2 linked regions of the Homo sapiens genome follow. The protein of the gene in region 1 purifies or fractionates together with the protein of each later gene. This does not show direct contact. Each region holds a gene or a part of one and is shown on either strand. Other genes may lie near its edges.

Evidence for each region.
Region 2: the proteins of CAMTA2 (region 1) and PSME3IP1 purify together in Homo sapiens (affinity purification with mass spectrometry; 3 studies listed by BioGRID and IntAct, with this or other methods). This does not show direct contact.

What each region holds. Positions count from the first base shown.
Region 1 is NC_000017.11:4,967,217-4,970,911, forward strand, and holds the end of CAMTA2 (calmodulin-binding transcription activator 2), read right to left. Parts: intron 3,321-3,695; coding exon 3,124-3,320; intron 2,935-3,123; exon of another isoform or gene 2,870-2,934; coding exon 2,686-2,869; intron 2,556-2,685; exon of another isoform or gene 2,486-2,555; coding exon 2,414-2,485; intron 2,305-2,413; coding exon 2,284-2,304; intron 2,122-2,283; coding exon 1,934-2,121; intron 1,766-1,933; coding exon 1,691-1,765; intron 1,604-1,690; coding exon 1,540-1,603; coding exon of another isoform or gene 1,490-1,539; 3' UTR 781-1,489; downstream 1-780. Other genes in the region: SPAG7 (sperm-associated antigen 7), read right to left, coding at 504-588. UniProt on the Homo sapiens protein: Transcription activator. May act as tumor suppressor.
Region 2 is NC_000016.10:57,151,966-57,155,039, reverse strand, and holds the end of PSME3IP1 (PSME3-interacting protein), read left to right. Parts: intron 1-532; coding exon 533-750; 3' UTR 751-2,574; downstream 2,575-3,074. UniProt on the Homo sapiens protein: Promotes the association of the proteasome activator complex subunit PSME3 with the 20S proteasome and regulates its activity.

The sequences.
Region 1 (3,695 bases):
GGGGCAAGAACACACAGAGGACCCTGCAACCAATGGGAATTCGCAGGCTGGGGTGGTTTCGAAGGAAGGTCGAACAGGCCTGAGGAGGCAGAGCTTTAAGTTGAGATAGCCAATAGAGATGAAGGCACAGTAGATGGCGTGTCCTAAATCCAATCGAAATAGAGCTAGAGGTGAGCGGGGCAGGAATGCGGCAGGTTGGAGGCACCCTACCAATCAGACCAGGTCAGCAGCGGACAGGCGGGACGGCCGGCTAATGGGAAACAAGGACTGCGGAAGGCCAGGGTCGGGAGAAGAGGCAGGAGGCTGGCGCTATCTTTCAGGTAGCCAATCACTGTCCGCTAAGAACAGCGGGCGTGTCAGCAGCCCTTTTAGGGACTCTGAGGGTCTCGGAAGGGGCCTGTGAGGGGTCTTTCAAGGTTGAGGAGGCGGCATCGTCCAAAGAGGGAGAAGTATGGTCCCGAGAACCGGGCGAAGGAAGGCGGTTGTGAATTTGGGATCCTCACCTCGGGCCTTGCGCCGAGTCTCCTGGTCACCGAGGCTGGGTGGCTTCTCCATGGAGCTCAGGATGGAGCCCAGTAGGTCCGCCATCTTGGGAGTGACTGAGAGGGGGCGGTGCGTCTTAAAGGGAAGGGCGGAATGCCTTTAAGGCCGGAAACACGTCGGAGGCGGAAAACCCTGGGCCCGCCTGGCCTGGGCGCAGATCCCAGGCCCGCGGTGCATGGCGGCCTCCAGCTGGCCTAGGCCCCGCCCCGCCCCCGCAGACAGAGGCCGGAGGCTGGCTGGTGCAGCGATGTTTAATGGCAATTCGTATAAACCAAGCCCATGCACAAGTAGAAAGTGCCCGTGGAGCCGGCAGGAGGCCCCCGCCGCGCTAGAGAACCACAAGCCCGGCCGTGCAGCCCTCCCCGCGGCGCCTTAAATAGATTCTTCACTATACTCTGTATGTTACAGTATGTACAAGACCCCTCCCCTCGGGGGACGGGGCGGACTCCGCAACGCGTTCCTATGTACACCACCTCCCCTTCGGCCCTGAGGTCAGTGGCCAGAGTCGGGTGATGGGGTAAGACAGGGCCAGAGAGGGAGGAAACAGACGCAAACATGCGGAGTCGGGTGGGGACACGGTCAGCCCTGAAACACGAGGGGCGTGCGCAGCGAAGGCAGTGGTGGGAACCGAGGCGGATACATTCAGAGACGCGTCGAACAAATAAATAAGGCAAGTCAGGAGGGGGCCGAGTCGGGTGCAGGCAGGAGGAGCTGGGGAGCAGGGGCAGGCAGGGCTCCGGAGGTCACAGCGGAAGATGCAGGTATGTGGGGCGCGGGTTTTCTGGAGCCAGGACCAAAAGAGACGGGGCACGACCAGGAGGGACGAGGAGAGGGGTGTGGGAGCAAGGCGTGGGGAGGAGGGAGGAGGCCTACAGAGGGCTCCAACAAAGGTGAACAGGAAAGCTGCCGACAGGGGCTCCCCCTGCCCCAGAAAGCCCTCTCCCTGTTAAGACTGCACGAGGCGCCCCCAGGGTGGTGAGAAAGGCGGTGGCCAGGTCATGTGGCCAGTCCCGGCTGGGGAAGCCCTTCCAGCTCCTGGTTCTGCTTCAGTTCCCTCATCCTGCAGAGAGAAAGATAGGAGTCAGAGGAGACTGGCGGATCACGACGGGTGGCAACGCAAAAGCCCAGGGGGAGAAGGGATGAGTACCTGTGTCGGCAGCGCCGCAGGAATCTCATGATCTTCCGGGCTGCCTGGTCCTGCTTCTTGGTGAGAAAGGAGCCTCTGGTGAAAGAAACAAAAGATGGACCTCACAGAAGGCATCGCATGCCTTCGGCCCCCCCAGGAACCCTAGGCAGGGAATGGCAGTGAGGCATGATGATCAAGAGGATGAGTAAGGGGGAATGGCGTGGATGCAGTGGGTGGGCACAGAGGGCTGGGGCTGGGCCCTACTTGTTGCGGGCAGGCAGGGTGGCCGAAGTCCGGTGGGGAGGGCCGGGCCTGCGGCGGTAGGAGCGGTAGTGCTGCTGGATGAGCACAGCCGCTCGGCGGCTCTGCTGAAATCGCTTCTGTTCATAGTAGCTTCGGAACTTGCTCTGGATCAGGATGGCCGCCTGGGTCATCTTCTTATAGAGTGCAAACTGCAGGGGTGGGGAGGAGGGACAGGGGCTGAAATAGAGGGACGGAGACCCAAAGCCCTGAGGCTCACCCAAGTTAGGCTGATGCAAGACTCTCTGTAACCCACACACTCAAGGAAAGACTGAATCATCACAGACCTCACACTCAGAGCTCATGCCTAATACCTTAAGTGCAATCCAGGTCAGCTTGTGGAGAGAGAAGGGGAGTTAGGGCTCTGGCAACATTCTGGAATGGTTAGGCGTGGGTGTGGGTTGGTGGGTTGCTGGTTACACTTTTGAGGGAGAAGGGTCTCACCTGCTTGTACTTCCGGTAACAGCGCTGGATTACAGCTGCTGCTACCTCCTGCTGCTCCTTCAGCCGCCGGCCCTGAAGGGAGAGAAGTCTCACCACCTCATGACCCACATAATGGCATATCTGACTTGTCCCTTCAACTTTCCTGGGGTTCCCCTGACCCTTTACCCCATCCAAGGCCTGTCTGCACGACTACTCATCCTCCAAAAGCCCTGGGAGCCCAGTCTCCCCTGACTGGAGATTGTGTAATTCATCCTGAGACCCCTGCCCCTGACCTTGTACTTTCGGAAGGCCGTCTGGATGACTCGGGCAGCCTCATACAGTTCCCGCTGCTCGTGATCTGATAGTGTCAGCAGGGCAAAATCACTTTCCATCTTGCCACTGGTGGATGCAGAGAGAAACTCTGCCCAGGAGGGTGCTGAAGGGACAGCCAGGCGACCTCGCTCAAAGGGCAGTTCGCTGTAGGCGGTAGGGAAAGAGGGTGTCATGAAGCATCTGAAGTCCCTCCTCTGCCACCTATGGATGGCTACGAAGGAAAACCACCAGCAACTGAGTCTGGAGAGTGACTTCAGAGTTCATCAGCCAGTTCAGTTCGCTTCTCCAAGGCCCTGGGGCCTCAGCCAGAATGGAGCTTTGGCTGTGGGAAAGCCAGCTTTCTCCCTTCCTCCCATCTTCCTTTGAAGAATCTGGAGGCTTTGTCCTGAGCTAGTCACCTGGGAGGGGTTGAGCTGGGGAAATGGTCCACATTCTCCAGGTAGCTGGCCAGCCAGGACATGGTCTCACTGAGCCCCACAGCCCCTGTCCGCTCCCGCATTGAGGCTCCAGCCTCGGGCAGCCCCACGAAGTCCTCTCGTTTAATCCGCTCCGGTGTGGCTTCGATGATCTGCTTGGCTAGTGAGATCATGTCCACCTGGAAGAAGGGAGAAGCTGAGTGAGTCCTTAGGGGCCCCAGCTGCCAGCTGTAACCTCAGTCCATTCCTATCTTGTTCCTTCTCTCCCTGCCAGGTGCTGCTAACCCTGTCTTTCTGGGCCACTGTTCCAGACTCATTCATTTATACTGATGGGGCTCCCACTTGGGGGTCCCTCTGTGCTGAGATGCTATGGAGAATATAGGATAAAAAGGAGATACTCCAAGTGGGGATTCAAAGCTGAACAAATGGAGGACTTGACACCCTTTCAGGCCAACCATCCACTGTCCTACCTGGGCCTGCCCCATGCCAGCTGACCAGCACATGCTCCCCATAGGCTTGGCTGTGCCCACCCCCAGCTCCCTTTCAACTCTCCA
Region 2 (3,074 bases), on another chromosome or scaffold:
AAATGTTTAAAAAGAAAAGAATGTTATTTTGTAGCTGATGTTTGGCCTTAAAATTGTATCTGTGCTAGCTGGCTTATTGGTCAGTAAATAAGAAATGGTGTAATACGCTGAGAACTTAATGGAATTGTTAATATTGCTCACAGTGTCTCTCTTAATCTGTTTTCAGATTCTCACGGCTGTGTGAGCACAGGGAAATCAAAGCACTCTAGGCTACACTCCAGAGTAGCTTGTTCTCCAACTCGGATTTGATGGGGAACAAGAGAGTGTAGTCAGGCTCTGGGGTTAAAAAGACCTTGATTCAAGTCTCAGCTCTGCCCCTTTACTTTCAGAAGTCCTTTCACCTCCTGGAGCCTCCCTTCCTCCTTCAGTTTCCCCATCTCTAAAACGAGGGTGATGATAGTATTGGCTGCATAGCATTGTTCTAAGGCTCCTCTGTGGGAAAATCCCTTGGTACAGTGCCTGGCACATGGTAAGTCAGTCCCCAACTTTGGAAAAGGGTGATGAAGTGACAGTCTTTCCCCTTTTATTGCAGAGCCCTCATCCTGCAAGTCTCTCGGAAACACCTCCCTGAGTGGCCCCTCCATCCACTGCCCCTCTGCTGCAGTATGTATCGGCATCCTCCCAGGCCTGGGTGCCTACTCTGGGAGCAGCGACTCCGAGTCCAGCTCAGACAGCGAAGGCACCATCAATGCCACCGGAAAGATTGTCTCCTCCATCTTCCGAACCAACACCTTCCTCGAGGCCCCCTAGTTTCTCCGTCCCTACACAGGGAGCTCCTCCCCAAGGGTAGATCGGACCGTTCATGCTGCCTATAGGCATTATGTCCCTCAAAAAAAAACTCCTTTGCCTGCATCCTGTGTACAACATGACATTTTTAACCAATCCAATCTAAAAATGTGCCAGAATCCACCTGTGGCCCGAATCGTGTTTGGTTCCTCTTTCTACTCCACTGCAGATGACCAAACCTGTCCCGCTGCCACTTTCCTCACTGATATTGGGAGGAGGGCAAGGCCCAGCCGAAGTTCCACTAAAAATGCCCCAGGAGAATAGGCACCGGCTGGCTTGCCAAAGGGTTTGGGTTTTATTGCTTTCTGTTTTTTCTTTTCCCGACAGCACAAAGAAGTAAGGGCAGTTATTGGACAGGTGTTATTTAAACATTCTATTGTAAATGAATGTGTTGTTTGGTTCTACTGCATTGTGGAGCATGCGGGGGAAGAGAACTGACCCAGGTAGTGAAATGGAGCCCTTCCCTGGAACTAACCAGTCCTTGATGTTGTGTGACTAAGTAAAGATGATAAACCCCATCTGCTGGGGGTGTCACTTCACACTCGGCATGCATTGTGAAAGCTTTCCATACCCTTGGCCATTCCCTCTCTCCTCTCTCTCCAACCCCATTTATGCAGGAAGGGACTGCTAACAAGAACGCTTCCATCTCAAACCTTTTCTCTGCCTGGGAAATTATTTTATGTTTGTTTTTGAAATAAAGGATTTAGTTTAAGATTCTAAATTTTAGAGAAACAAACGTAGGCCTTGTTTACTAATAGCCAGACATCAGAACTGCAGGTAGGTATGTTAATGAGATGACTTATTTCTGGCAGCTCCTGGAATCCTAATATTGTAAATGAGTGGGACACACTTGCATATTGTGACCATTCTATTGAGGCCCTTCTCTGTTTAATGCATATTATACTTGTGCTTTTAACTGTGGAATCTATTTCTAACCTAAAGGTGCTGCCCTAGTACTTTTCTTTGCTGCCTCTGCTGCTCTTTTTCCTTTCCAAACAGCAACTCTGAGGCCATGAGCAGCCAAAAACTAGAGGTACTGCTCCACCTCGTCTCATAAAGGGAAACGGGCTCATCCCTTGGATTCTGGAGGAGGGAGAGGGAGATGGTGTGGAGGCCTCGAGGACAGAGATAGACATGAGCTTTGACAACAATCTGTAGGCTCTCCTGCTTTAGAATAAGCATGTACCATTCTTTATCCATTCCCCTTATTCCTACATCAATTGTTTTTACTTTCTTGGGTGTGAGACTGAGTGAGACACACACAAAATGTGTTGACACTGTGATGCCGGCAGGCAGAGCAGCTACTGACTTTGAACATGGGCAGAGAGGCCCCTGGATCTCATCCAGCCCACTCCTTTTCCCCTTCCAGTACAGTGACACTCTGGTGCCCATTGGCAGATGGCGACTTCCCTGCACCCATAACTGATGCTTTGTGAATTCTTCCTCCTTTTCAGAACTACTCTGTGCTAATTGTTCTGCCAGTATGGGCGCATCAGCTCCATCCTGACAAACAAGACATTTAGGTAAAACTTTGTAGGCACCTTCTGCTTCTCTGCTTCATTGTTCCTGTGATAGTCCTGTTGTTATTACAGCATGTACCCAAAACAGCCTCACATTGTTACAGGAGGCAGGCCAGGACATCAAAGTCATCATCTTTATGTGGCATGACTCTTAAGAGGCCATTACTGTATCTCATGGCCTCTTGATGTGGAAAGAAGTTGACAGAGGGTTGCAGGGTTTAAAAACATCCATTAACATGAAAGCTAATAAACCTGTCAGAGAACAAGATCTTGTTTTTCCTCTACTGAATATTGTGCTTCCACCTCTCCCCATGTCTCTCAGCTAGATTGTGTTGAGAAGGTTGAGTGAGACTCTTCAGACTGTGACTTACCTTCTGGTGTCTCAGGAGAGACTGAGAATCACTGGTGATCATTGCATCATATTCCATTGTCCCCATCAGCACAGAGCTCTGGAACTGAAACAGAGCTTCTGTAGCAACCACAGCTAACAAAGCAGCGTCTGATCTGACCAACAGAGGAAGCAGCCTTGGAAAGTATCTAGTGTAGACCTTGAAGTTCAAACCCAAAGGAGAATAGAATAAACAGGGCTGGAAGGAAACACTGCTTTAAACTGTAAAGTGTAGTACTCCTGCCTTAATAATTGGGATTTTATGGTAATTACGGGACAAAAACAAAGTTTGGCATGGGTTTCTTTAAGCTCGCTTACTTTGTTCTGAGTGGTAGGATTCTTACAATTCTCCAGCCATGTGAGGGAGAAAGCTAATAGGA